7 linked regions of the Homo sapiens genome follow. The protein of the gene in region 5 purifies or fractionates together with the protein of the main gene of each other region. This does not show direct contact. Each region holds a gene or a part of one and is shown on either strand. Other genes may lie near its edges. The genes, in order: URI1, RPA1, ANXA5, POLR2B, RPRD1B, GPN3 and NIF3L1.

What was found.
Region 1: the proteins of RPRD1B (region 5) and URI1 purify together in Homo sapiens (affinity purification with mass spectrometry; 3 studies listed by BioGRID and IntAct, with this or other methods). This does not show direct contact.
Region 2: the proteins of RPRD1B (region 5) and RPA1 purify together in Homo sapiens (affinity purification with mass spectrometry; 2 studies listed by BioGRID, with this or other methods). This does not show direct contact.
Region 3: the proteins of RPRD1B (region 5) and ANXA5 purify together in Homo sapiens (affinity purification with mass spectrometry; one large-scale study listed by BioGRID and IntAct). This does not show direct contact.
Region 4: the proteins of RPRD1B (region 5) and POLR2B purify together in Homo sapiens (affinity purification with mass spectrometry; 6 studies listed by BioGRID and IntAct, with this or other methods). This does not show direct contact.
Region 6: the proteins of RPRD1B (region 5) and GPN3 purify together in Homo sapiens (affinity purification with mass spectrometry; 3 studies listed by BioGRID and IntAct, with this or other methods). This does not show direct contact.
Region 7: the proteins of RPRD1B (region 5) and NIF3L1 fractionate together in Homo sapiens (co-fractionation; one large-scale study listed by BioGRID). This does not show direct contact.

What each region holds. Positions count from the first base shown.
Region 1 is NC_000019.10:30,011,152-30,015,372, reverse strand, and holds part of URI1 (unconventional prefoldin RPB5 interactor 1), read right to left. Parts: coding exon 4,137-4,221; intron 3,089-4,136; coding exon 2,842-3,088; intron 487-2,841; coding exon 304-486; 3' UTR 1-303. UniProt on the Homo sapiens protein: Involved in gene transcription regulation. Acts as a transcriptional repressor in concert with the corepressor UXT to regulate androgen receptor (AR) transcription.
Region 2 is NC_000017.11:1,832,721-1,836,941, forward strand, and holds part of RPA1 (replication protein A 70 kDa DNA-binding subunit), read left to right. Parts: intron 1-4,221. UniProt on the Homo sapiens protein: As part of the heterotrimeric replication protein A complex (RPA/RP-A), binds and stabilizes single-stranded DNA intermediates that form during DNA replication or upon DNA stress.
Region 3 is NC_000004.12:121,672,262-121,676,482, reverse strand, and holds part of ANXA5 (annexin A5), read left to right. Parts: intron 1-3,856; coding exon 3,857-3,950; intron 3,951-4,221. UniProt on the Homo sapiens protein: This protein is an anticoagulant protein that acts as an indirect inhibitor of the thromboplastin-specific complex, which is involved in the blood coagulation cascade.
Region 4 is NC_000004.12:56,988,758-56,992,978, reverse strand, and holds part of POLR2B (DNA-directed RNA polymerase II subunit RPB2), read right to left. Parts: intron 2,232-4,221; coding exon 2,081-2,231; intron 1-2,080. UniProt on the Homo sapiens protein: Catalytic core component of RNA polymerase II (Pol II), a DNA-dependent RNA polymerase which synthesizes mRNA precursors and many functional non-coding RNAs using the four ribonucleoside triphosphates as substrates.
Region 5 is NC_000020.11:38,039,909-38,044,129, forward strand, and holds part of RPRD1B (regulation of nuclear pre-mRNA domain-containing protein 1B), read left to right. Parts: intron 1-526; coding exon 527-656; intron 657-4,221. UniProt on the Homo sapiens protein: Interacts with phosphorylated C-terminal heptapeptide repeat domain (CTD) of the largest RNA polymerase II subunit POLR2A, and participates in dephosphorylation of the CTD by RPAP2. Transcriptional regulator which enhances expression of CCND1.
Region 6 is NC_000012.12:110,457,675-110,461,895, forward strand, and holds part of GPN3 (GPN-loop GTPase 3), read right to left. Parts: intron 2,189-4,221; coding exon 2,021-2,188; intron 1-2,020. UniProt on the Homo sapiens protein: Small GTPase required for proper localization of RNA polymerase II (RNAPII). May act at an RNAP assembly step prior to nuclear import.
Region 7 is NC_000002.12:200,892,371-200,896,591, forward strand, and holds part of NIF3L1 (NIF3-like protein 1), read left to right. Parts: coding exon 1-9; intron 10-875; coding exon 876-1,038; intron 1,039-2,893; coding exon 2,894-3,020; intron 3,021-4,221. UniProt on the Homo sapiens protein: May function as a transcriptional corepressor through its interaction with COPS2, negatively regulating the expression of genes involved in neuronal differentiation.

The sequences.
Region 1 (4,221 bases), on a different chromosome or scaffold from region 5:
AAACAATGCATATGAACAGTATTCTTTGAAAAGTAATTCAAAATGCTGCCACTGCATCATAAAGGCAAACTTAGATAAGAGTGTTGACAGTATTCAGAGAATTCACAAAACAAGCTGATATTAAAGTATTCAGACAGTTACCTTGATTTTTTTCAAATACCACGGGTAAGGGTAAAAGAACTTGTTGCCAAAGTAACTCAGGATACCTTATTTCAAACTACATGTAACCTATTTTGCTATAGATACTCTAAACAAATGAACAACTAGGTTTTAGGATGTAAATTCCCATTTCCTAGACAGGGCCTAGTCTTTCTGTTGCAATCTGGCAGCTTTAAACTTTGAAACCCTCTTTCCAGTTTCTTCAGATGCTTCCAACAGAACTTCCTTTCGTTCTGGAATAGTGGGTAGTGCGGGATGAGCAATGGCTGGGGGTGGTGTTAAGGAAGGTGATACAAATTCTTTTTCTATAACAGTTCCAGAAAAAGCCTAGAAAACAAAAGTCAGGTTATGGTAATAAAATGCAAATAAGACACCCACAAAATCTTCCCATTCACTCATTTGGCAATTCTTTTCATTAAAAGTAAATTCACGAGATTTTTGGCTAGACAACACTACTACACCAAAATACTAATTGTTCAGAGAAACCAACACCATTAAGTTTTAATTTCACCACCAAACAGAAGTAATTTTTACAGTATACATGCAAGAAAACAAAATGTAAAATGTAAATTTTATCTGGGAAAAAAAAGAAATGGATAAATAAAAGGTCTTCAAACTTTCATACATTCCATTCATGTCCAGCCCATGCTGTGAAAAATAATGTATTAAAATAAAAATGCTATTAGGGTGTCAAACTCTGACTTTTGTACATCAGTTGATGAATGAGCTATCCTATGATGGCCTTGCTGCCTGCTAGCCAATAGCTTAGTTTCACCAGTACTGACATTTCTAACTGATATCTCTTTGGTGGTGTTTATGCAATTATTTAAATATTTTACTGCATATTGCCTCAATTTTAAAAGATCAGTGGAAGTTGAAAAATAAAAGTGCTGATACTAGTAGGAATAAGTACAGGTTTCAAAATTTTAATATAATTAACTCAATGACAGAAATCAGAAGTTCCACAAAAAAAGAAATGACTCAATTTCACCTGGATGTTTGCTGCATTTAATCTGGTCAACTATATGTTCAACTGGAACAGAATTAAAGAATGTGCATAAATTGCTGGAAATATCTGTACATGTCGTTTTATACAAAAATAGGTAAGACACAAGGAGTTAATTTTTTTTTTTTTTTTAAGATTGCTGGTATTTAGAACCTCCATCCTTCCCTCTACAAATGAAAATTTGACAGGTGAACTTTAATGTACATTTTGTTCTCCTCTGTCTACCAAGTGCTCAAAATTAGTTAAAACAACGTAACACCTAAATAATTTAAAAAGCCACCTTCTTCTACCTTGCCCCACCACTGAAACAAAAACAAAGAAAGCCATCTCTCTCCTACATTATTTTTGGAGTTCAACTGGTAAAAGCAGCTTAAAGCTTACTTTCCTAAAAACTCCACTTTATCACGATGAGCATAGAGCCTTCTTCTCCTTCTTCTATTTAAAATGCCTTTGAAAAAGAGGTATTTTAGCATTTAAAAAGATACTGAAAAGGATATCTTCCAAAGTACTTACCATAATCATGAACTATTTCTTTGATGTTAAAAAATGTATAGCAACTACTATTAAACATTTCCATACAAAATGCAAAGCTACTAAGGGTGAAATAAAAAATAGGTTCCACACTCTAGCTGTACCATGATACACTAAGTCCTTACAAAAAACTAATTTTCAAACATTTATCAGCAATTACCTGATAACATCCATTACCTGTTTTCTAACAGTATGGAAGACTATCAAATAAGGTAAGATACTTTCCAGGTCACCTAAGATCATTATACTAAGAAGAGGGGAAGAAAACATTCTAGTCATATGTACTGTCCCTAAATGCTACCAATCTCCATCCCCAATTACCATTTAATACACTGAGTATAATACCATTTAGTAAAAGCAATGGAATTTTTAGATAAGGTTATATATATGCATGTATCTTATTGTATATACAAATGTGTACACTGGTTTGATCCAGGCATGGGTTCCCCAATCTTCCTAAATACTTTTTAAATTGAAAACTTCAAATACGCACCAAAACACAAGAATGAAGAAATCAATAGCCTTATATTTCACAGACATCCTTATTTGGGGATTTCCTAACCTCCCCTGCACCACCACCAAAAACTGTAAGAAGTGTGGTGGGTGAAAGTGTATTGAGTGTGCACTATTTTTTCTATGGACAGGGTCTACAGCTTTCATCAGATTATAAAACAATTCCATAATCCCCCAAGAGTTAAGTTTCACTGGTACAAGGTAAAATATTAGACTTTAGGTAATTATCTGCTATGCATGCATTATTTTTCTTTAACTTAGCCAAGGTATTTAAAAGAGAATAATGTAATCTGCTCCTTACACTATCAGAAAATGACCTACTGGTAATTTATTTAAAATAAACTGCGAAATAATTTCCTAGCTACAAATGTAATACATAATGCCAAGTAAGACATTTTAAATTTCCCATTTTGCTGAAATAGAACGTTAAGACAAGTAATGTGTTTATCAAAAAATAAACTATTTGATTATCACAATATTTGTACTGTTTGTGACTATTAATTTTTTATTAATTAGTACCAAGAAAGTATAAAACCTAGAATTAATTTAATCTTATGACTTTTCAGATTAAATAGCTAAAACTGGTCAAAGATACTATATGAAATAAAGAATTAAAAGATACACACACACACCTCAGGTGTTACTGATAAGGGCAAAAGTTTCTTTTGATTTTCTTGTGGTTCCTCTTCCAAAATGCTCTCACTGGTGTCACTGCAAGTGGCTTCTTCGCAGCTGATACTCCTCAAAACTCCCCGCCTATCATCAAATTCAGCAGCACTGCTTTCACTAGTGTCGCTACACACACTATTCTCTCTACTTCGAGACTTCAGGATGGATTTGCGAGGGACATATTCTCCATTCACAACATCAACAAAGGCTCTGTGATATTCAAAACACATATGCATTCACTATACGTAACTCATAAAACTGAGAACAACTTTTTGAAAATTTCCTTGAATCTATTCTAGAAATTAATCTGAAAATTTTTATTACAATCTTATATCTAAAATAGTCACAATCACAATAATTTTATAGCCTCAAATGGTATCTTCATACTATTTTGAAAGCTATTTCTCTGGCCTAATAATAAAACACAGCATGTTATTTATTTATTTTATTATACTTTAAGTTCTAGGGTACATGTGCACAACGTGCAGGTTTGTTACATATGTATACATGTGCCATGTTGGTGTGCTGCACCCATTAACTCATCATTTACATTAGGTGTATCTCCTAATGCTATCCTTCCCCCCTCCCCCCACCCCATGACAGACCCCGGTGTGTGGTGTTCCCCACCCTGTGTCCAAGTGTTCTCATTGTTCAATTCCCACCTATGAGTGAGAACAAAAACACAGCATGTTATTTTTAAGCATGTCCTAGGTGGCAATAGCATGGTTTGCCAAAATTCTACATAAAGTTTTAGACCCACGTATACATTTAGCAATTTTCACTGATTTATAAATAAGGGTCATAAAAACAGTAGGTATTTTCAAGTGATAGTTTTCTCAACAAACAATTCCAAAAAAAAGGAAAAAAAAAAAAAACCTGCAACAGTATAATTTCTACTCTGAAAAGGTAAACTGCATGCCAAGCATGTTACGGCTGTGGTAGAAACGTAGGGACCTAGCCCACTGGAAACAAAAATGCTTTCTGAAGATACAAGATTTTCTGACTAGACCATTTGGAAATGTTTCAAAAGCACTGGTGAAGAGGAGAAAGTGAAAAAAAAAAAAAATCCTCCATTCCCACTGCTCTGGACTGGGAAGCTACAGCCGGTCAGCCTATCAGATCCTAAGTTAACTCCTCAGAACACTTCACTTTTCAGTGAGGGTCTTCTGTGTTACAGTCAACTTTCTCCAGTAAAGGTTCAGTGGCAGAAAGAGAGGCAAGCCCAGCAGACTGCCCTGCAGCTGTGAGCGCCTCCCACCTGTAAATGTCTGCAGGCGTCCTGATGGTCGGCAGCTCCTGGGCAGAGTGGCCACTGCCAGTGCTGTTCTTTCGTTTACGTTTGG
Region 2 (4,221 bases), on a different chromosome or scaffold from region 5:
ATACTAAACTGTTTCTTTTCTGTAAAATGAGAGCAATGATATCTATTGCATAAGGTAAGTAGGAGGATGGAGTGAGTTATTAAATTTAAAGTGCTTAGCACACTGATACATAGTAAATGCTCAGTGTTTATGTTACCTATTAATAATTGCAGTTTTATGTTTGTTGATTTATCAGTTTCTTTTTAAAATTTTAAAATTATTGTGTTTGTTTGTTTGTTTGTTTTGAGACAGAGTCTTGCTCTGTTGCCCATGCTGGAGTGCAGTGGCACATTCTCGGCTCACTGCAACCTCTGCCTCCCGGGTTCAAGCGATTCTCCTGTCTTAGCCTCCCTAGAAGCTGGGATTACAGGTGCCCACCACCACACCCTGCTAATTTTTGTATTTTTAGTAGAGACAGGGTTTCGCCATGTAGGCCAGGCTGGTCTTGAACTCCTGGCCTCGAGATCCACCCACCTTGGCCTCCCAGTATGCTGGGATCACAGGCTTGAGCCACTGTGCCTGGCCTAATACTTTGTGTAAATTCCATGAGGCCTGCAATCATGTCTGGGTTATTTTACTCTGCATTGTATCCCCAATACCTGGAGAAGTGCTGGCAAGTTTTAGGTGCTGAATAAATGCTTGCTAGTTGCATGAATGAATGAGGCAGTGGGAAGAAAGGGACAGGTGAATGGGGAAGAAAGGCAGCTTGGGGGAAAAACAGGAACAGGAAGAACTATTGTTGGACTCAAGTGAATATTTAAATAAATTAGGAATGTGTGAATGCTGAAACCGGGGAAGTGATTTTAAATTGTAGCTTTCATTTACTTTATAGCTGCTACCTTGTGTCTTTAAGACAAATTAAGAATGTTTCTAGGCCAGGCGCAGTGGCTCACGCCTGTAATCCCAGCATTTTGGGAAGCCAAGGCAGGCAGATCACCTGAGATTGGGAGTTTGAGACCAGCTTGGCCAACATGGAGAAACTCTGTCTCTATTAGAAATACAAAATTAGCCAGGTGTGGGGGCGCATGCCTGGAATCCCAGCTACTTGGGAGGCTGAGGCAGGAGAATCTCTTGAACCCGGGAGATAGAGGTTCCGGTAAGCCAAGATCGCACCATTGCACTCCAGCAACAAGAGCAAAACTCCATCTCAAAAGAAAAAAAGAAAAGAATGGTTCTTCACTTTTAAAAAGACTGATCATGGGCCAGGCGCAGTGGCTCATGCCTGTAATCTAAGCACTTTAGGAGGCCAAGGCAGGTGGATCACTTGAGGTCAGGAGTTCGAGATCAGCCTGGCCAACATGGGGAAACCCTGGTCTACTAAAAATACAAAATTAGCTGGGTGTGTTGGCGTGTGCCTGTAATCCCTGCTGCTTGAGAGCCTGAGGCAGGATAATTGCTTGAACCCGTGAGGCAGAGGTTGCAGTGAGCCGAGATTGCACCAGTGCATTCCAGACTGGGCGACAGAGTGAGACTGTCTCAAAAAAAAATAAAGAATGATCATGGAGATATTTAAATAATTTGATAAGTTTTTTTATTTTTTAGAGATGGGGTCTCACTCTGTTGCCCATGCTAGTCTCAAACTCCTGGGCTTAAGCGATCCTCTCGCCTCAGCTTCCCAAAGTGCTGTGATTATAGATGTGAGCCACTGCACCTGGCCATGTTTTTATATTCAAAATTTTATAAACCTATTTCCAGCGTAGGTGAAGTATTTTGTTCATAAATGAAGAATGAAAGTTTCACATGTGTTTGTGGTGATGGAATGAGTTGGAGAACCTTTGCTGACTTTCATTATCAGCTAAAGCAGGTATCATTTTCGTTCAAAAGACACAGGCCACAAAGGGTACGCAAATACCACACACATGTGAAGGCGTTTGGGCAAGAGTCACATGATAAAATAAGAGATGATGCATAGAACTCTTGTGGTCAACAGAATACATAGCATTTGTATCTTAATTATATAACGAAAGGGGAAGGGAACTAATGTTTTTGACTATTTCTAATGTGACAGATGCTTTAGTAGTCAGTACTTAAGTAACCCTAGAAGATAGCTATTATACTCCCATTTTACAGAGGAAGGAAGTACAGAGAGGTTGAATAATGTGTCCATGGGGTGAAGATTTGAACACATGTGCCCTTGAGTATTACATTTGTTGCTTTATATACTTACTAGGGATTTTTTTTTTAAAGGGTCTCACTCTGTTGCCCAGGCTGGGGTGCAGAAGCACAATCTCAGCTCACTGCAACCTTCACCTCCCAGGTTCAAGTGATTCTTTTGCCTCTGTCTCTCGATTACAGACGTGCGCCACCACGCCCAGCTAATTTTTGTATTTTTAGTAGAGATGAGGTTTCGTCATGTTGTCCAGGCTGGTCTTGAACCCCTGGCCTCAAGTGATCTGCCGCCTCGGCTTCCCCAAGTCCTGGGATTACAGACTTGAGCCATTGCACCTGGCCGTAATTTTTTTTAAATGACAGAGTCTTGTTCTTTGTCTCTCAGGCTGGAGTGCAGTGGCATGATCATAGCTCACTGCAACCTCCAACTCCTGGGCTCAAGTGATCCTTCCACCTCAACCTCTCCAGTAGCTGGGAGTACAGGTGCATGCCACCATGCCCAGCTAATTTTTTTTTTTTTTAATTTTGTGTAGAGATGGGGTTTCGCCATCTTGCCTAAGCTGGTCTCTAACTCTTGGTCTCCAAACAGTTCTCCTGCCTTGCCTCCCAAGTCTTTGGGATTATAGGCATGAGCCACTGTGCCTGGCCTTGTCCCTTAAAATGAGTTACATTTGTAAACAGCTGATTTCTTTGGAGCATCGTCCCCATATACTTTTCTTTCATAAGTGATCTCATCCTTCTTCCACCCAACCTTCCCCTTGAATTTGTTGTTTGTTGTTGTTTCCATTTTAGCAGAATTCATGTTGCTCTGATAGGGGCTCTTTTCAAACTGATGTCTTATCCTTCTTAGTACCTCAAACTAGGTCTTGTTCAGACATGTTATAACAAGTTAGTATGAGTTTATTTTAGTGCAAAAAAAATTTTTGAAATGCATGCATAGTTTTTTCATAATGCACATTTTTCGTGTACTTTTTGAATCCCCCTCATACATGCACGTGGTTTTAAAATCAAACGGAACAGAAAGGTGTTCATGGCCGGGCATGGTGGCTCACATGTGTACTCTCAGCACTTGGGGAGGCTAATGCAGGAGGATCCCTTGAGGCCAAGAAAGAGTTTGATACCAGGCTGGGCAACATAGCAAGATCCTGTCTCTATTTCATTTAGAAAGAAGAAAGAAAGAGGTGTTTAATGTAATTACTGACCTCCTGCCTTACCTTGTCCAGTACTGTTCCCCAGAATAACTGCTTTTTAGAAAAATCACTGTCATTGACATTTTGCTTACGTATAGTAAATTGCACCTTTTTTATTTATTTATTTATTTATTTGAGGCAGAGTTTCCTCCTGTCACCCTGGAGTGCAGTGGCGTGATCTCAGCTCACTGCAACCTCTGCCTCCCAGGTTCAAGCAGTTCTCATGCCTCAGTCTCCTTAGTAATTGGGGTTACAGGTGCACGCCACCACCTGGCTAATTTTTGTATTTTTAATAGTGATGGGGTTTCACTATGTTGGCCAGGCTGGTCTCGAACTCCTGACCTCAGATGCTCCTCCTGCCTTGGCCTTCCAAAGTGCTGGGATTACAGGCATAAGCCACCATGCCCGGCCAAATTGCACGTATTTTAAATGTACAGCTTGATGAACTTTGACAAATGTGCGCACCCCTGTAACCACATTGCCCCTGTGGAGATATAGAATACTTCCATCAACGCACAACTCCTCTTGCTCCTTCCCCACCTCCATCCTCACCCTAGGCAACCAGTGTTCTGGTTTCTACCTTTGTAGGTTAGTTTTGCCTTTCCTAAGACTTCATATAAATGGAATCAAATAATATCTATCCTTTTGTGTCTGGCTTCTTTCAGCAGTTTTTTTTTTTTCCCCAGAGGTAGGGTCTCTGTCACCCAGGCTGGAGTGCAGCGACACAGTCATGGCTCACTCCAGCCTTGACCTCCTGAACTCAAGAGATCCTCGCACCTCAGCCTCCTGAGTAGCTGGGACTACAAGTGCATGCCACCACTCTTGGCTAATTAAAAAAAAATTTTTTTTTTTTTTTTTGAGACACAGTCTTGCTCTGTTGCCAGACTGGAGTGCAGTGGCGCAATCTCAGCTCACTGCAACCTCTGCCTCCTGGGTTGAAGCG
Region 3 (4,221 bases), on a different chromosome or scaffold from region 5:
AGAAACAAACCCATGGCTTCCACTGAATAGCAGTGGAGTTGGAATTCCTAACGAGGCCTGTCTGACTCCAAAGCTCTTTCTCTTTCACTAGAAGATAGTCAGTGTTATTGAATATTAATATTTCACTATAAGAATATTTCACTGTAAGATATTCAGTGTTCTTGAGTATTAGTGCCTTCCCTGATTTTCTCTATCATTAAAGGGCTTATTAAATATCAACTCAAGCATAGATCTAGCTTAATTCCACCTTCTTTCGGGAAGAGGGCTAGAGCAACCCTACAGAGTTGTACTCCTGTTAGGGGCTTTGTTCAGTACTGAGGTGATCTTACTGCTTTCCAAGCATTGGTTGTGGCTTTGCTAGGAGATAGTGCTGATTCTCTCATTCCTACTGTCAAGAGTAGGATAGGAGTTCTGGGAGCTTTTCAGGGTCACAGTGTAAGAAACCAACTCTAGTCCTCTCAGATGTCTGCAGTGAGGCCTGCATTCACAGGCAGAGGGCAGATTTCCCAGCATAGTTGGTGATGTAATGAGAGCATTGCTGCAGCACGAGGCTCCTGAGGGGAAAACAGTACATTTTAACCTTGTTTTCATTGATTTCTGTCCTTGGAGCACTTACTGGATAGCACTGCTGCTCAAACTTTCATGGGCATGTGGCGCACCTGGGACCTTTAATTGCAGATTCTGATTCTATGGGTCTGGGCAGGGGCTGGGAGTCTGGATTTTGAACATGCTCTCAGGTAATGCCTGCATTCTTGGTCCTTTGATTACTGAGGCTGTATAGGTGACACTTACGTGTCATGCAGTGGATATAACCATTCAGAACCCTGAGAGTACATGTGAGACTGTACATGTGAAAACTGCTTTATGGAGTTACTTTAAAGTATCCCTTGAATGGAATCCAAGCTTTTCTTAGCCTTCCAGTGACTAGGAGCAATACAGAACATGTTACACTGGCTATTATTTTTGATTCTTTCAAATGTATTATTATTAATTAATAAACCTGTTGAAAACAAATAATCTTTTGGCATTATAAAAAGGAACACACCAACTTGTACCTCGTAGCAAGGGCAGCTGGACTGTTATCACTAGTGAGAATTTGAGATTTCTTAATTGAGAGTAAGCTGAGACAGCTAAAGGGCTCTTTTATAAGCTTTTGCATTTTTGTCTCTACTGATACCTGGCACTAAGAAGATTTCTATTATTTGAGAGGTTTGATAAGCCATAGTGAGTCATTCACTTGGGAACTGAACGTTTTGTAGATAATCCACTTTTTAACATTTTTAATGTGTTAAATTGATTTAATACTTTTAATGCATTAAAACAGATTTACCTTCTTCCCCAGTAAATCCTTGTTTTATTCTTTCTCTGGAGGGAGAGTTGAACTCTTAGAGGAAAGAGGGAGAAGGAGAAGTAATCAGGCACTTTTTACTTTTACTGGGCATTTGCTACTGATTACCTGACACTGTTCAGTGCATTATCTTAGTTATATAATCTCCGTTAATGACTATATACACTGAGGCTGAAGAGGAGATTAAGTAGTTCATCTGAGATCTTGCAGATAGACCACATCTGTTTTGACTCCAAAGACTCATCCTTTGCACTGAACCAGGGCTTATGAAACTGTACTCAGGCTGAACCGTAAAGCTTAGGGAAGGGGTGTAAGGGTCCCTCATCCAGATGGATCCATGAATATTGGGCATCCTCATTTAGGAGAAAGGATACTTAGATTAAAACAAAACTGTTAAATATCATTGTTTTACATGAAGAAGCCATCATTATTATTGCATATGATTACTTAATAATAGTTTTACAGTAGATATTGATCCCAAACATAATTCTCCCAAGAAAATTAAAACATTGTGGTAAAAATAACTGACATCTCACCAATTATTCCCATATAACAGGCTTAACTCCTGTACCTACTAGAGAACATTTCTAGACATTTAAAACAGTTGATAAGAAGTGTGTGCATCAATGTCTGTGATATTGTACAAGATGAGTCCTTTACCCATTTAGGTGTTAATGTATTTGTATATTTTATCTACATGTAGAAACATACCAGAAGTAGTAACTAGCACCCTCAGGAAATTGATATTAAATAGCAACTTTTCTTTTCTTTCCTTTCTCTTTCCCCTTTCTCCTTTTTCCTTTTCTTTCCTTCACCTTTCCTTCCCCTCCCATTTCCTTACCCTCCCCTTTCCTTCCCCTCCCTTCTCCTTCCTATCCCCTCTCCCTCCCCTCCCCTCTCCCTCCCCTCCCTTCTCCTTTCCGCCCCTCTCCCTCCCCTCCCCTCCCCTCCCTCTTCCCCTTTCCTTTCCTTCGTGCCCAGGCTGGAGTGCAGTGCCATGATCTAGGCTCACTGCAACCTCTGCCTCCTGGGTTCAAACAATTCTCTTGCCACAGCCTCCCGGGTAGCTGGGATTACAGGCATCTGCCACCGTGCCTGGATAAGTTTTGTATTTTTAGTAGAGACAGGTTTTGACAGGTTGCCCAGGCTGGTCTTGAACTCCTGGGCTCAAGCGATCCACCTGCCTCAGCGTCCCAAAATGCTGGGATTACAGGCATGAGCCACTATGCCTAGCCTGCAACTTCTATTTTCTTATTTTTGTTCTTTCTTAGTTTTATAAAATTTCTCAATGAACTTGCGTTGTTTTTGTAATTAAATTTTAAAAGTTATTTTAAGAAAGGTCTGTGTCATCATGATATAGTTCTAAAGTTTAGATGCATGCATGACTTTCAGAGTTACTGTCTTTTCAGGTTTTAAGAGCATGTTCACATGGCCAGAATTGATATTATTCATTTTTATCTTTAAAATAATTAATTTTAAAATTGAGCATAAAGATACATGAGTCTCATTTTTTTCTTATTCTCCAGAAATATAATAAAAAATAGATCTTTACCACCATAATCTACATTTTTAAATATACTGTGATCAAAACTTCTATATTCAAGCCTGTTATTATCACTTCCTGTCTTTATTTGGATTGCTGCTTGTGGGTATAAGGCCAACTGCAAGTAGCAGCCTCAGCAAATTGCATTCATCTTGCTTTAATATGTAGACTTAGTTTGAAATGAATAAAAGGATAGTACAGTCATTGTAAAGGTTGATTCTTTGGGTTTTAATAAATTATTCTCACGTCAATAAGTGGATTCAGAGTTAACGTTGATGTTTGTATATAAGCTTATTTTTTTAGGCAGCTATACGTGCACAAGAAAGCATATTTTTTCCCCATGTCAAAAAGGAAGTATGGGCACTCAAACTATTCAACCACTACTTATTGAGTGCTTCTATATGCCAGGCACTGTGCTATACCCACAATCTTTTAAAAATTTATTGTGATCTTTGGAAATATGAAAACATTTTATAGCTAGCCTTGGTTAAATCTCAGTTGTAAAGAGAAAATATGAAGTGTACTTTTACTCATGTGCTATTGAACAGCTATAGAACAAGCAAAACAGAAAAGGCAGACAACTTAGCTTCCAGTTAAATCCTTTCCCAGTCTATACATGGATGTATCAACAGTGAGGTAGTCATAACTTTCTCCTGACCCATACTGTTGCTTCTGAAAGATTGGAGGTTATGGCAGACATTTTGGGAACATGTAACCTTGCACCATTGCCGTGCTTTGTTGCTTGGACCCATGAATCTTCTGTGGCACAGTTCAGTGGCAAGCTCCAAAGGTGCTCCAAACTCAGTGAGCTGAGTTTCAGAGTAGGACACATTAGAAATGAAAACTATTAATACAAGATGATGAATCAAGTGAGTTAAAATTCAGGGAGTAAAAAACAAGTGTGTTTAAGAACCTGGAAATGAGATGGAGGAACAATTTATTAATTGAGTTTGAAATTTTTGCAGGCTTTATTTCAGGCTGGAGAACTTAAATGGGGGACAGATGAAGAAAAGTTTATCACCATCTTTGGAACACGAAGTGTGTCTCATTTGAGAAAGGGTGAGTGAAAAAAATCTGTATGGGGCAGATACATTGGTAAATTTGGAAAGTGCATGAGCCAGTGTGACAGAATACCTGCTACATAGCAGGGACTTAGAGAATGAATCAGTTTTTGTATTTCTTCCTTTTGGTGACCTGGAGAAATCTCAACATTGTTTTTGCTGCTGTTGTAGCTTTTACAAACTAGAGATCCTGAGTCCACCCTTCACTATTGGAGGATGGCAAGGGAGGTCAGTTCTCTAGATTGTTCCTCTCATAGTCACACATCACT
Region 4 (4,221 bases), on a different chromosome or scaffold from region 5:
GTAACTTTTCTAAAATAATGCTTTATGTATATTCTTTGACAGTCTCTCAGTAATTCCTCATAACATCCAATGACATTCAAAGCTTTCAACAATCGGGTTCCATCTTATCTTCCTAATGCCTATTAAAAATAGAGAAGCCCTGTAATCCCAGCACTTTGGGAGGCCAAGGAGGGCAGATCATGAGGTCAGGAGATCGAGACCATCCTGGCTAATACGGCAAAACCCTGTCTCTACTAAAAATACAAAAAAATAATAGCCGGGCGTGGTGGCAGGCGCCTGTAGTCCCAGCAACTCAAAAAGCTGAGGCAGGAGAATGGCGTGAACCCGGAAGGCGGAGCCTGCAGTGAGCCGAGATCGCGCCACTGCATTCCAGCCTGGCCAACAGGGCGAGACTCTGTCTCAAAAAAAAAAAAAAAAATAGATAAGCCAAAATCACATACTGATCATTGTGGTCCCCAGCCTAAATACACCAAGTATTTTCTTTTCTTTTTTTTTTTTTTTTTTTTTTTTTTTTGAGACAGAGTCTCGACCTCTCGCCCAGGCTGGAGTGCAGTGGCGTGATCTCAGCTCGCTGCAACCTCCGTCTCCCACGTTCAAGCAATTCTCCTGTCTCAGCCTCCCTAGTAGCTGGGACTACAGGTGCCTGGCACCACACCCGGCTAATTTTTGTACTTTACTAGTAGAGACGGGGTTTCACCATATTGGCCAGGCTGGTCTCAAACTCTTGAGCTCAGGTGATCTGCCCGCCTCGGCCTCCCAAAGTGCTAAAATTATAGGCATGAGCCATCGCACCGGCCACACCAAATATTTCCTTGCTGAAATGACTAAGCACCTTTTCTCTTCTAAGAGAGTTCTTCATAGTAAATTTAAGTCTCTTCCATCTTTTCTACTAAGCTCTGATAACTAGGTGTTAGAGATCTACTCCTCTTTTAGTACTTCTGTTACTGGCACGTTCAATTTGCTATGTTATATTGTTATCTGGCTTGTTATACAAAGACCATGAAGAAAAAATGACCCAACAAGCCAGGTGCAGTGGCTCATGCCTATAATCTCAGCACTCTGGGAGGCTGAAGCAGGTGGATCACTTGAGGTCAGGAGTTGGAGATCGGCCTGGCCAACATGTGAAACACCATCTCTACTAAAAATACAAAAAAATTAGCCAAGCATGGTGGTGGGCACCTATAGACCCTGTAAAAAAGAAAAAAATGACCCAAGAATAAAAAAGAAACTTAATGTCCCCCTTTCCAGCACAGCCCTAGAAGAGCCAATCACTTTCATTCTTAACAGCAAAATTCTGTACAGCATGTCCAACTAAAATGGAAATAACAGACCAGCACTTAGGAGATAAGCTACACAGAAGAGAAACTGATCAGGCTAGAAACAATGAACTCTCCCTGTGTCTAGCTCTATTTTGGGGGCTTTCCCTACCTCACTTTGTTTCTCAGTTTTCCCTGTCTCTCAAAGTCCAATATGTTCCAACAGCTGCCTCTCAACTTCTCTAAAACTGGGACAGTCATTATTTTGGACTACATCCTTCTTATAATCACTCATGTAAAACCAAATTATAAAATTATACCCTTAGTATGATTTTAACAATGCTAAAAAACCTGCATATATGTGAGCAAAAGCTACAAGAAACTTAGTAAAGATAGCTGCTATGTTTGGGTGATTTTCCTTTCTTATCTCATATGGTTATAATAATGTACTTCATGCAATATATAAAATCAGATGAAAATTCCTTCAAACATTTTTTATTATTTTTACACTGTGAGAGAAAAAAGCGGGGTTATCTATCTAAAGCAATGTGACCATCTCTGGCTCACTTCTCTTATTTGTTCATATTTCAGAGTCCTCTCTTCCCAGCTATTCAATACCTACTATGTGAATAAGGATGGGATAACTTGCAAAAAAACACACCTCTTCATTAGAGAAAATAAATCAGAAAGTGATTGACGGTGCTGTAAGTACTTTGCTAAAAGCTCCAACTGACTTTTTTTAACCTTTAAGCCAGGTAAGAGAAGGGCTAAAATTTCAAACCAATACGCTTCTTGTACCTGTGTAACTATTAGAACTATCTTACCGGTTCTTCAACTTCTCCACTAGCATGCTGAGCTTCAGCCTGTAGGTCTATAGGAGGAGCGTCTTCCACAATTCTTTGAACAGACATCTGAATAAACTCATCAAAAGAATCCAGCTGTTGTCTAACCAAGCCTTTCTCGTCAAAATAGGAACTGGGAAAATATTTGAGTTCAGTCAGTTGCAACTCAGTGATAATTTCTAGCATAATTCCCCATTTTCATTATTTCCCCATTTTCATTATTCAAGAAACAGTCATAAAATACCAACCATTATATGTCAACCACTAAACAAGACACTATGAGGTATCTTAAAAAGGATGAAACCGGGCATATTTTCTTTGTAGAACTTATTATTTGGGGAAAAGCAGCTTATATTTGGGGGTAAAATACTTAAAGCACAATATAAGAACTATAAGGATCCCAGCTCCTGGGAGGCCAAGGCAGGAGGATTGCTTGAGTTCAGCCTGGGCAACGCAATGAGACCTCATTTCAACAAATAAGAAAAAAATTAGCCAGGCATGGTGGCATGTGCCTATAGTCCCACATATTCAAGAGGATGAGGTAGGGGGATCACTTGAGCCCAGGAGTTTGAGGCTGCATTGAGTCATGATTGCATCATTGCACTCCAGCCTAGGAGACAGCGAAACCCTATCTCAAAGAAAAAAAAAAACTTTATGCCCTTTATGGACAAATTTTATTCCACCTCTTTGAAGTACTTCTTGACAAATATGTCAGGAGAGAAAACTAAAGAAAAGTCAAAGATAACAATAAGAACTTTCATTTGAATAGGACGGAGGGTAGTGATATTAATGACTAAAATAATGCATGAGAATGCCAACTTTAGGTTATAGATCATTAGTTCTATTTTGAATTCTTAAAGGTAGGATAAGAAGAATAAGTCTTTACATAAAAATACTCAGCAAAAGACTGGTGATAAAAATGCAGCATGGCTGAGAGAGCTGCAATCTAAAAAGCAGACATCATATTTATAAGGAACAGATACTTTTCAGGTGAGGGGTGGGGAAAGACATACAGAGACAAGTAGATACACGTGCAAGAGGATCTCAACAGATCACTCCCTATTACCATCCAGGGACAGCTGCAAAGCTGGGCATCACAGAGGCTGGAGGATGTAGCACAACCCTCAAGATTATCCCATCACCCTTCAGCAGTAGGAAGTGCCCCACCACACCTCCACGTCTCCACTCCTATATCTTGTGACCTCTGTCATCTTATATCTGTGAGACCTTCTTAGCTTCTACTCCCCAACTACTGACTCCCCCATCTTCACATCAATTTTCTAAGACAATATGCAGAGTCCAACTAATCATCAGCCTCCCATTTTGGCTTCATCAGGTCACCTCGCACATCAGTGACAGGCCAACAAATTGGCCCCACCCTGATCCAGTCAAGTATGGCCACCAAAATTAGAAGTTAGGTCCTATGGTAGAAAACACAGCAGACAATCACACATGTGTAAGGTATGACCTAAATAACAGTTGGGGCAATTTATTTCAGTAGAGACTGTCACATAATGGGAAAGAAATTTCTCACAACCATGTGGATTAGCCATTGATATTGTAAGAAAAACATGGCATTGCCTGTAATATACATAGCCATGGTTTTTTATAGGCAATTTAAGATGAATAGCTTCTAAACTATAGATAAGTTTCATTACCCCAGGAAGCTGAACTATAGCTACTTTACCCAAAATCATTAGAATGGTGCTTAAACACCTAAACTATATAAATATTTCATATTTATGATCTCTACTCTGTTTATTTTACCTGAAGTCATCTTATGAAGTTACTTGTGATATTAACTAATATCACATTCACAAGATCACTTGATATTAAAAAGTAAAAAAAAATCAAAATTCATTTCTCAATAGCCAAAGTATCTACAGTCAATTTAAACTTAAAAATCAAATAATTTATTTTGTAACAAATGATAAATGCTATGACAGTTCACAATAGAGTATTTTATCCTTGAGCAATCTACCACATATGTTGAAAACAACTTCTTTTCACCTAAGATAAAATATTTTTTCTACCGGGAGAATGTAGAATATAGGCACACTCCACAGAACATCTACCTGGTTATTGTTTCCTAATAAAATATCTCTTGGTGTTTAACACCCAAA
Region 5 (4,221 bases):
TCTTTAGTAGAGGTAGGGTTTCACCATGTTGGCCAGGCTGGTCTCAAACTCCTGACCTCAAATGATCCACCCACCTCGTCCTCCCAGAGTGCTGAGATTACAGGCATGAGCCACTGCGTCCGGCCAACTCAGTCTTTCATTCTGAAATATTTGATAATTAAAAGTGAGTTAGAAGTTGCTCATTTTTGCAGTAGAATAAATAAAAGCCCTAGTTTCAACATTAACACTGACTGCTTATCCTTTAGGAATTCTCTTTGGATTATCTTAATTTTTACTATCAATTAATTACCCTGGTTTAAACAACACAGCAATGAAGATGGCCCATTCTTTTTCTTTTTCTTTTTTTTTTTTCCGAAATGGTATTCCCAAACCTATTCCTTAGGTGGTCTTTTTAAACATATCTACTTGACCCCCCAGGTAGATAATACTTGTCTTAATGTTTTTTTAGGAGCAGCCCAGGGCAAAAGAATTGTGAATTGAGAATTTCTTTGGTGTAAGTTAAATTCTTTTCTTTTCTTTTTTTCAGCCAAATCAAATAGAAAGCTTACTTTTCTGTATTTAGCGAATGATGTCATCCAAAACAGTAAAAGGAAAGGACCTGAATTCACTAGAGAATTTGAATCTGTCCTTGTGGATGCTTTTTCTCATGTTGCCAGGTATGTTGTCTGTTTTTTGGATTTGTTTTTAAATTCATTGCCTTTCCCACCTTTTTGTTCTTTCCTTTTCTGTGATAGCCTTTGTAAATTGACAACTTCCTACTTTACAGAGAGTTGTGGAGGCCGAATTGTGGTTTTATGTTTTGTTGAGCCCTCAAGAACTATCGAGACATGTAAACATTCTGATACATTTGAGAGATTCAGCCTAGCATTATCTTTCTTCTAGATATATTCATTTTCATTTTTTGAATTTATTTCTTGGTTATGGTATTTTCCTTGGTTTGGTTGAGTTGTCTCATCAGCTTATGATCAAAAAACAAAGCTAACTAGTAAGGGAACCTTTTAGTAACATAACTTAATAGCAAGAAATTAATTGCCAAATGCCTTCCTTTTTATTTCCTTCTGGATTTCTAGATGTCTAGTTTACTAAAAATAGTAGGCATTACTGTAACTGCAATAATAGTAATTATTAGTGTAGAAAGTAGGTGTTTGCTCTGGCTATATTGTATTAAGCCTGGTGCTGTTGTGTTTTGTGGCAGAGAGGAGTGGCACTCATACAACTAATACCATAGAAAGCATACATTGGATTAAAAGTTTTATAAATTACTTTACTTCATGTAAAAACAAAAGCTTTCTGTGGGCTTAAATTAGGTGCCCAGGAAAAGCAAAGAAAAACTATCGTTCATTAGAATATTATGTTTATAAGTAAATATATAAACAGATATTTGCAAAAGGAATTGGGAAACATGAATGGGAGACTAGTAGGTTAAACATAAATTGTTACTAGGTCTAAAATATAGTGAAAGGCCTTAAATGAGAAATGAAGTCCTGCTTTCATTGCAGGATTTGAAAAGTTTGAAGGAATAAAATTAGAAATCCAAGAGAAAGAAATGACACCTAGCTTTCTAGAGATGAAAAAGATGGTTTTTGTGGATAAGTTACATAACTGGCTCACCTTTTGATCAACATGGGCGCAAGTAGCAAAATGTGTTATTAACTTGAAAAAAATACTGAATCTTCATAACAGAGTAAGCTTAGAACAGACTACTAGAGGAGCTATCTGAAATAGACAGATTTTCTTGCTTTGATGAGATTTAGTTCACAGTTGCTTAGAAATTGATGGTAGCTCTGCCTCAGACACTATGTGAGTGACCTTGGATGTGTTACTTAACTTTTTGAGCCCAAATTTCCTAACTGGCTAAAGGGGGAGGATACCACTCCCCCTCATAAGAGTTGTGAGGGTAAAGACAGACAATATGTTTAAAAGTATGTAGTACAATGCCTGTTCCACATTTGCTCATTCATTGGATCATTTGTTTTTTCCTATATTCCAGGCACCTAGTAAAGTGTCTGGCACAGAGCTGCTGAGTTATGTAGCTTGAAGGAATACCATTTATATAGCCTCCATGTAAGTGGTGTCCCAGGAGCTGGGCAACATTATGGTCTGCCCTGACACAGTAGGCGTTCAGTAAATATTTGTTAAATGAGTTAATTAATGTTAACTCATTATGGAAGAGATTTGGTCTAGGGAGTTGGCTGGAATGATTTCTTGTAGGGATAGTAAACATAACAGTGTTATTAAAAAATTCCAGCCTGGGCAGCATAGTGAGACCCTGTGTCTACAAAAAATTTTTTAAAAATTAGCCAGGCATGGTGGTGTGCACCTGTAGTCCTAGCTACTTGGGAGGCTGAGGCAGGGGGATTGCTTGAGCCCAGGAGTTCAAAGCTGTAGTGAGCTATAATCATACCACTGCACTCCAGGTTTAGCAACAGAGCATGACCCTGTCTCTAAATTACAAACAGACAAACGATCTGTAATCTTTAGCTGTCCTGAAACCAAAAAGTAAATAGAAAGGGGTGGAAAAGGGGGTGGGCAACACCAGGGTTAAAAATTCCTTTTTTCTTGGGAACACCTTAAAAACTAGCCAGGTTTTAGGTGTCTTGGCAGATTCAGTGGCAGTGTGAGGAAGATAAACCTGGTCCTTCTCAATAAAATAGCCCGAATTCCTTTCTGTTTGCATTCTGGTTCTTTTAAGATTCTGCTTGGGTATTACATTCAGGATACCCATGTTTCCAATCTCCTTTCTTATACCCCATTATTGGGACAGAAAGTCCAACAGTTCTGCTTCAACCGTGATGCAGCTCGTCCACAGTAGGAGTAGCCTAATTAACATATACTTTCTGTGTGCTTTTTCTGTGGTCAGTTGATGAACAAAGATAGTTGACCCATTACTGTTGACTAAATTGATGAGGGATATTTTTATGATAAAAGACACCTCCACACCCAAAACAAACAAACAGTAAAAAAAACTCTCAAGTCAGAGAAAGCTGCCAAGTTCATAGGATAGATTTGATTTGAATAGCAGTTTAATTAACCAGACTGCAAACTTGCTTTTCATACAAGTGCCTTGTTTTCTTCCCAGTGAGGAGACAGCTGTCCATGTCATTTTTCATTCAACATGTATTGGAGTGCCTTCTATGTGCCAAGTATGGATCCAGACACGGGGGGAGCAGCAGTGAACAAGGCAGGCAAAGACAATTAAATGAGCAAGATACTTTCAGAGCAGGACAATATGGACATAGTAAAATGGAGTGATGTTCTAGAGTAGGATCTCACAGGTAGTGTGGTTCAGGAAGGCCTCTAAGGAAATGACATTTGCGGTAATCATGCGAAGCGGGAGCAGCTATTAAGAAAAACTTAAGGCAGAGATCATCTTGGCCTTCTAAGAGAAACAGAATGAAGGCTGGTGTGGTTAGAATATAGTGCACAAAGGGAAAAGTGATATCCAGATGAGGTCCGAGAGGTGGACATGCAGCAGTCACATACACCCTGTAAGTCTTGGAAGTTAGGATTTTTTTCTCATGGGATGTCATTGAAGAGTTTTAACCAGGGGAATGATATATTCCAATATATTCCAACATACATTTTTAAAACATCCCTCTTTAAAAATGGCTTAGTGTAGAGGGATGGATTGTAAAGGCCAAGGGAGGGGCGGGGACATGAGTTTGGAGGATATTGCTGTGATGCAGGCTAGAGGTGACATTGCCTAGGACTCAGAAGCAATGGGAAGATACTAATAGCTTCCATTTATTGAGTGCTTCCTTCGTGGGAGGATCCCCACCTCTCCAGTGTAAAACTGATAGGATTTATAGGCGTTGAGTGGGAGCTGGTAGTAAGTGAAAAGAGAAATCAAAGACGATTTCTAGGTTTTTGATGTAAGGAATGACTGATGGTGCCCTTTACTGAAGTGAAGATTGGGGAAAAGATTTGGTGGAGGAAATCACGAGTTTTGTTTTGGCCAGGCCGAGTGTGAGGTGGCTAGTGAATATTCCAAGGAGTGATGCCAAATAGGCAGGTGGATAAAATAGTCTGAAGCTCAGTAGAGACTTGATTTCTGGAGACATAAATTTGAGAGTTACCCACATGATATTTACTTATTGTTGTGGGCCCCAAGACCACTCCCAGGTTTGGTGATTCCCTAGAATGACTCACAGGGCTCATCATGTAGTCATAGTCATGGCAGTGATTCATTACAGCTAAAGGATCCAAAGCAGCAGCAGCAGC
Region 6 (4,221 bases), on a different chromosome or scaffold from region 5:
ATGTTAAATCATCAAGTTAGAGGAAACAAATTTTCCCCATAAGATGGACAAAAATAAAAGCCAACACATTTTTAAGGGGCCCACAGCCTCTCAAAGCAATCATAAAACCTAAGGTACTGCCACCATAGGAATCCCTAACTATTAAGTTTTATGTAGAAAATGAGGTTCTCTGGTTGGGCAGGGTGGCTCATGCCTGTAATCCCAGCACTTTGGGAGGCTGTGGCAGGTGGATCACTTGAGGCCAGGAGTTCAAGACCAGCCTGACCAACATAGTGAAACCCCATCTCTACTAAAAATACACAAAAATTAGCCAGGCGTGGTGGTGCGCGCCTGTGGGATGCTGAGGCACAAGAATTGCTTAAACCCGGGAGGAGGAGGCTGCAGTGAGCCAAGATCACGCCACTGCACTCCAGCCTGGGCGACAGAGTAAGACTCTGTCTTTAAAAATAAAAAAAAAGAAAGAAAGAAAGAAAATGAGGTTCTTCACACTTTAGTTTTCTGCCAATCAATATGAGTGTTATTGGCCAGATGCCATGGTTCACACACCTGTAATCCCAGCACTTTGGGAGGCTAAGGTGGGAGGATAGCTTGAGCCCAGGACTTTGAGAGCAGCCTGAGCAATATAGTGAGATCCTATCTCTACAAAAATAAATAAATAAGTGCTACAAAGATATCTATAGTTTGGGAATATTCATCAAGCTGTATACTTATGACATATATACTTTTCTGTGGGTATATGTATGGTCAATTAAAAGCAAGGGGAAAAAAGTGAGGGCCATAAATGGTCAAAGCCAGGTTAGGCTCAAGTTGAAAATTCACAATTTGGGCTGGAGGTGGTGGCTCACACCAGTAATCCCAGCATTTGGGAGGCCGAGGCAGGTGAATCACCTAAGGTCCAGAGTTTGAGACCAGCCTGGCCAACACAGTGAAACCCTGTCTCTACTAAAAATACAAAAATAGCCGGGTGTGGTGGTGGGTGCCTGTAATCCCAGCTACTTGGGAGACTGAGACAGGAGAATCACTTGAACCCAGGAAGTGGAGACTGGAGTGAGCCGAGATGGCGCCATCATACTCCAGCCTGGGTGACAGGAATGAAACTCAGTCTCAAAAAAAAGAAAAAAAAAAAAGAAAATTCACGATTTGGCTTCAGAAGCCATGATGTGCTATTATCTGTCTCCTACCAGTCACACCTCATGACAATTGCCTCTTTGTTTATTATGCTCCAGCCACACTGGCCTTTTCAGTGCCTTAAAACAGCTTTGTTCCTTCCTCCTGGGAGGTGTTCAGCAGGCTGTGCCCTCTGCCTTCCTCACCCTCAGCCTCCAGCCCAGCTGAAAGGCCGCCTCAGATGCCTCTCTAACCGCCATTATCTGTGTGATGATCTGTGCTACTCCTGTGGAATACTCAATGACAACTGAATATTAAATAATCATTTGGATGCTTTTTGTTTGTACTGTCTCGAGTTCTGCCAAATGTGAGCTCCATGAGGCCAGAGACCATGGCCATCTGTGCTCTATGGTATTCCCAGTGTACAAAGCAAGCACTTAATAGATATACTTTTTTTTGTTTTTTTTTTTTGTTTTTGAGACAGAGTCTCATTCTGTTGCCCAGGCTGGAGTGTAGTGGTACAATCTTGGCTCACTGCAAGCTCCACCTCCCAGGTTCATGCCATTCTCTTGCCTCAGCCTCCCGAGCAGCTGGGACTACAGGCGCCCGCCACCATGCCTGGCTAATTTTTTGTATTTTTAGTAGAGACAGGGTTTCACCATGTTAGCCAGGATGGTCTCGATCTCCTGACCTCGTGATCCACCTGCCTCGGCCTCCCAAAGTGATGGGATTACAGGCGTGAGCCACTGCGCCCGGCCTCAACAGATATACTTAGTAAGTGACAGCCATTGAATAAGCTTGGTACTTTACTGCAGTATAGTTTAGAGCTACAAATACTCACTCTCCTTTCTCCTACTAAGGATGGAACTATCAAGACTTTAAGGAAGACAATGCATTCAAATTGTTGATTCACCTGGACAATCAAAAAGGATATAGTCGTCCTCTACATGGCCAAGACAGTTCTCCAGCCAGTCAAAATTATTGGCAAAGTACTCCATGCAAAATACCAATCCTCCGTTGGGACCGAATCGCAGAGAATCATCCTCCATTACATCATCCACCTCGATCAGTTCCCGGATGTCTGAAAAGGACAGATAGGGCCCAGAATATATGTGTCCCTTCAAAAATTGTTATCCTTACTAGAAATAGAACATAAAAGTTAATAATTACATAAAAAACCCATATGCAGGAAATTATTTATGTACATGGCTTTTCCCTGTAGCAGTGTCCATCAATAGAGAACTGAGCAAATAAATTATTGTACAGCCCGACAATGGAATACTACACAGCCATAAATGGGGAAAATCTCTTTAAGTATTAATAATAATACAATCTCCTAGGTATATTGTTCAGTGAAAAATGCAAGGTGCAGAACTGTGTAAGAATGCTATCATTGGTGTTAATAAAAGACAAAAATTCACTACATAGACATAATACATATACATCTTGAATTTTATGTGCACAGGCTATGAAAGAACACACCAGAAACTGGTAACACTGGCTGCTGCCAGGGAGGGGAGCTGATTGCTGGGATGCAGAGCTGAGAGGAAGATGTTTTCCTGTATACTTACTCTTTAGTACTTTTACATTATGAACCATGTGAATATGTATTACCTATTCCAAAAAAGTACAAAACCAAAAAAAGAAAACAGATTACCATTTCTTAACACAATGACACTAAGGAAACTATTTCACCTCCTTGAGCCTCACTTTCCTTATCCTGGGTTAGAAGGATGAGAACTATGAGATAATATATCAAAATCACCATCAGGGGCTGGGTGCGGTGACTCCTGCCTGTAATCCCAGCACTTTGGATGAGGCAGGCGGATCACTTGAGGTCAGGAGTTCAAGACTAGCCTGGCCAACATGCTGAAACCTGTCTCTACTAAAAATATAGAAATTAGGCTGGGCATGGTGGCTCATGCCTGTAATCCCAGCACTTTGGGAGGCCGAGGTGGGGGGATCATGAGATCAGGAGTTCGAGACCAGCCTGGCGAACATGGTGAAGCCCCATCTCTACTAAAAATACAAAAATTAGCAGGCATGGCGGCGCACGCCTGTAGTTCTAGCCACTCCGGAGGCTGAGGCAGGAGAATCACTTGAACCCAGCAGGCAGAGGTTGCAGTGAGCCAAGATCACGCCACTGCTCTCAAGCCCAGGCGACAGAGCAAGACTCCATCTCACTTTCCAACTTGGACCCAGCAGAATGGCTCCTGCAAAGAAGGGTGGCGAGAAGAAAAAGGGCCATTCTGCCATCAACGAAGTGGTAACCCGAGAATACACCATCAACATTCACAAGCACATCTATGGAGTGGGCTTCAAGAAGCGTGCCCCTCAGGCACTCAAAGAGATTCAGAAATTTGCCATGAAGGAGATGGGAACTCCAGATGTGCGCATTGATACCAGGCTCAACAAAGCTGTCTGGGCCAAAGGAATAAGGAATGTCCCATACTGAATCCGTGTGCAGCTGTCCAGAAAACGTAATGAGGATGAAGATTCACCAAATAAGCCATATACTTTGGTTACCTATGTACCTGTCACCACTTTCAAAAATCTACAGACAATGTCGATGAGAACTAATCACTGATCGTCAAATACATCAAATAAAGTTATAAAATTGAAAAAAAAAAAGACTCCATCTCAAACAAAAACAAACAAAAATAGAAAAATTAGTCAGGTGTGCTGGCATGTGCCTGTAATCCCAGCTGCTCGGGAGGCTGAGGCAGGAGAATCACTTGAACCCAGGAGGCAGAGGATGTAGTGAGATGACATGGTACCACTGCACTCCAGCCTGGGTGGCAGAGAGAGACTGTCTCAGGAAAAAAAAAATCACCAACAGGAGAGGCTTAAAAAATTCTGGTATGGTTATCTTACTAATTTTGGGGAATCAGTATATAGAATCTTCTACCTTAGGTTTTTACTTATTTTTGTGCTCAAACCTACATTCTCCATTCACAAAGGACTGAGCTTCATTCACAGTCACATTTATACTGACAACACCTTCCTACCCCCTCCCTCAGCAATCAATAACAGATAACTGATCCAAATTGGGACAATCAATCTGGCTTTCTTTCTTTTTAGACAGGGTCTCACTCTGCTGCCCAGGCTGGAGTG
Region 7 (4,221 bases), on a different chromosome or scaffold from region 5:
AAGGGCTTGGTGAGAAGCCTCTTTCATATTTGATATTTTCCCTGCAAATACTTTGAAACTTTAGGATGTCTTTCCAGTAAAGTTTTAACTGCTTTAGGGTTGGGGAGGGCATGATTCCATTTTTATATAATAATTTTAAAATAATGTTGCTGAAATTTGGCAGTTAAATTGCATTTGAAAAAGGAAACATTTTTTATTCTTATGGAGTAAGGAGAGCAGAAGTCTTCCTTACTGGACTGAGCTTCATGATTCCTCACTTTTGTGGCACAATGCCTGTCACCCAGGCACTTGGAAAATGCTTGTTGAATTGAAAGCTCAGGCCTCTCCAGAATACACTTGATTGATAAGTCAAGTAAATAGACATCAGGGTTTTAATGAATGTTTTTAGTGAATGTTTACTTATGCCTAGCACAATGAGGGAATGATGGATGGATTTTAGCTTTATTTTAGTAAGTCTTTAGTTTACTCATTTTGGGCTAAAGCTTTTATGATGATATCTGGATTAATGTGGTCAAATAAAGTATGAGCATTTGCAACCTGAATGATGGTTTACATGGCTAGATTTACCAAGCAGTAGACCATTCTGTGTATTATCTGAAAATGTATGAATCAGTCTTTCTTGTCCAAGTTTTTCAGAGATTTAAGAATCTTTTGGAAAATAATTCTGAAAATAATTTGATTTTGTATGTCCATGCCAAAGCCCTAGATTATGGGGACTGGTGATGTATATCTAAGGGATGTGTGTATGTTATGTAAGCATGAGAATGAATCTTTTTAAAAAGTCATTTCTTAGAAATTTTGCCTATAATAGTTTACTTTTAAATCTTAATCTCTCACCCCCCAAAACTCCCATTTTCCCACAATATTTTCTCTAGGAGCTTGTACCTCCAGGCCCATACATCCTTCCAAAGCTCCCAACTACCCTACAGAGGGAAACCACCGAGTAGAATTCAACGTTAACTACACCCAAGACCTGGACAAAGTCATGTCTGCAGTGAAAGGAATTGACGGTGTTTCTGTCACTTCTTTTTCTGCTAGGTACAATTTATTTTTCTCTTTTTTTTGTGTGTATTTATTGGTAAGCATCTTCCTTACAAAGTCTATAACCCTGGTATTTAGGCTTGAAACAAATAGTTTTCTCTGGAGTTGATTTACAAAGTAGCATACTCCTCATTTGTTTGTGGGTCCTGGAGAACTATGGAATTTTTTCAAAACAATAAAAACGGTAAGTAACACTAAGTATTTTCTATGTCAGGGGACTATACTATGCATTTTACCTACAGTATTTCTAATCCTGGTAATGTTCAAAGATAGTTGTTTTTACTTTAGAGAATACAGATAGATCCTAGTGATGTGGTGATAAGGCTTTTATTGGTTCCCAGCAAATCAGTGATTCCCAAGTGCTTTTTTATATTTATCTTTACATTTTAAATATATATTTTCATAAATCAGTCTTTTTATTTAACATCATGGGAAATATTTTTCTGAATAGTCTTTTTTTGTTTGTTTTAAGAGACTCCCAGGCTGGGCACGGTGGCTCACACCTGTAATCCCAGCACTTTGGGAGGCCAAGGCTGGTGGATCACCTGAGGTCAGGAGTTTGAGACCAGCCTGACTAACATGGAGAAACCTCGTCTCTACTAAAAATACAAAATTAGCTGGGCGTAGTGGCGCATGCCTGTAATCCCAGCTACTCAGGAGGCTGAGGCAGGAGAATCACTTGAACCCGAGAGGCGGAGGTTGCAGTGAGCCGAGATCGCGCCACTGCACTCCAGCCTGGGAGACAGAGAGAGACTCTGTCTCAAAAAAAAAAAAAAAAAATGCAGATTTTTGTATTCACCTCAGACCTTATAATTAGAATGGAGTTTGCCTGAGAATCTGTCCAGGACATTCTCAAATTCAATGATGTTTTAAAATTATCATCTCTAAGGCTTTAAAAAAATTCATTTTGCCCCAGCCCCATTTGTAGATGTTCTGTTCACTGGTTCTGTGGAAGGATCCAGCAGCTGTTATTTTAAGAAGCTAGAAGGAATTTTTTTTATTTTTTTGAGACAGAGTCTCACTCTGTTGCCCAGGTTGGAGTGCAGTGGTGTGATCTTGGCTCACTGTAACCTCCGCCTCCCAGGTCCAAGTGATTCTCCTGCCTCAGCCTCCCCAGTAGCTGGGACTACAGGCACCCGCCCCCCACCACGCCCGGCTAATTTTTTTTGTATTTTTGGTGGAGATGGGGTTTCATCATGTTGGACAGGCTGGTCTTGAACTCCTGATCTCAGGTAATCCACCTACCTTGGCCTCCCAAAATGCTGGGATTACAGGTGTGAGCCACTGTGCCTGGCCTTCTTTTTTTTTTTTTTTTTAACTTTAATTTTTTAATAATTAAAAAAATAATAAGATAGGGTCCTGCTATGTTGCCCAGGCTGGTGTTGAACTCCTGGGCTCAAGTGACCCGCCCACCTTGGCCTCCCAGAATGCTGAGATTACAGATGTGAGCCACTGCACCTGGCCAAGAAATTTCTGATGCACAATCGGGATTGAGAACAGTTCTTGAACAGTGGTTTCAAAGTGAGGTCCTTGGACCAGCAACATCAGCATCACCTGGAACTTGTTAGAAAGGTAACCTCTCAGACCCCCACCTAGATATAATGAATCAGAAACTCCAGGGGTGGGGCCCAGCACTCTGTGTTTTAATAATCCTCCAGGTGATTCTGATGCCCAGTAGAGTTAGAGAAATGCTATTCTAGAAAATGGATTAGTTTCAGATTAAATGGGTTCTGTTGGTTAAATCCTTGGTTCCACATAAATCTAATCTATTATAGTAGGTTTGTAAACTGTGGATTATCTAAAATACATTTTGGCTATATTTGTCCTAAATGGAGTGATTTTTCCCCCCTAGGACTGGTAATGAGGAACAAACACGGATTAATCTGAATTGTACTCAGAAGGCTTTGATGCAGGTGGTAGATTTTCTTTCCCGGAACAAACAACTTTATCAGAAGACGGAAATTCTGTCACTGGAGAAGGTAATAAGAATATTTTGTATTTGATCTTAAAATACTGTGCACACATTTTCTAACAGTATAATTGAGGTATAATTGATATACTTAGGTATATTGAGGTATACCTTATTGAGGTATAATTGATATACTAAGAATTGTACATATTTGATGTGTACAATTTGATGAATATCATTACTTTGCATTTTTCTTCAGCAAATTCATTTGTAAATTATTAGATCAACAGGCCATTCACTGTTATCTAAAGTACAAAATGGCAATGAGAGCATAATATTCTCTAGGAAGTAATTGAGAAAGGGAGACATTCCAGGAACAGGAAAATATTGGTACGTCTTCAGGGTTACAGATTTGGTTACAGGTTTGCTGTCTCCTTATTTTACACGCTCTGCCTGGACCATGTCATTCACTTCTTTAACTTGATAGCCATTTGTATGATGATTTCTATCTTTACTTTTTGGCTTAGAATGCTTTCTTAAGGGAAAAAATGACAAGAACCCATATTTTCATCTACTTTCTGGATGTTTTGCACTTACAGAGCCCACAAGTATTTCAAATTCAGTATATCCAAATACTTTATCCGTTTGCCACCCCCGCTTTTTTTTTTTTCCATATTTCATATTTCAGTATCATTATCTACTTTAGTTTCCAAGTTTTCACATTCCTCCTTGACTCCAGGCCCTGCTGAGTCTGGCCTCATATCTATACAGTGTTTCTCCTCTGTATTGGCTCTGCCACCACAGTAGTTGAAACTCTCATTTTCTGCGATGAGAGTAGTCTCACCGAGCACCTAGGAGGCAGTCCAGGCTCTTTAGCATGGTGTTGGAAGCCCTTAATGATCTGCTACAGCCTGGGCCTCCAGCCTCCTCTCCTTCCACAGCATGTACTCTGCACAGTAGCCATACTGTCTTCTTTTGGATCTGCCCCCATAGTGTGTTCTCTCAAGTTTTTGGCACCTTTGTCCATGTCCTCTGTGTTTAGAATGCCTTTCTCCATCTCATCGTACCTCTGTCCTGCCACACTGCACTTGACATCACCCCTTTTTAAACTCTTTATTTCCCCCTTTTTAACTCTTTTAGGGTTTTCTCTAAGACCTAAGTCCTTCCTCCAAGTACTCCCCAAGCCTCCTAAGTCACAGCTCATTTAGTTTGTCATTCTTTGTGCTGCTGCAACTGTAGCACCTACCTTGTATTTAAACAGTTTTATTATT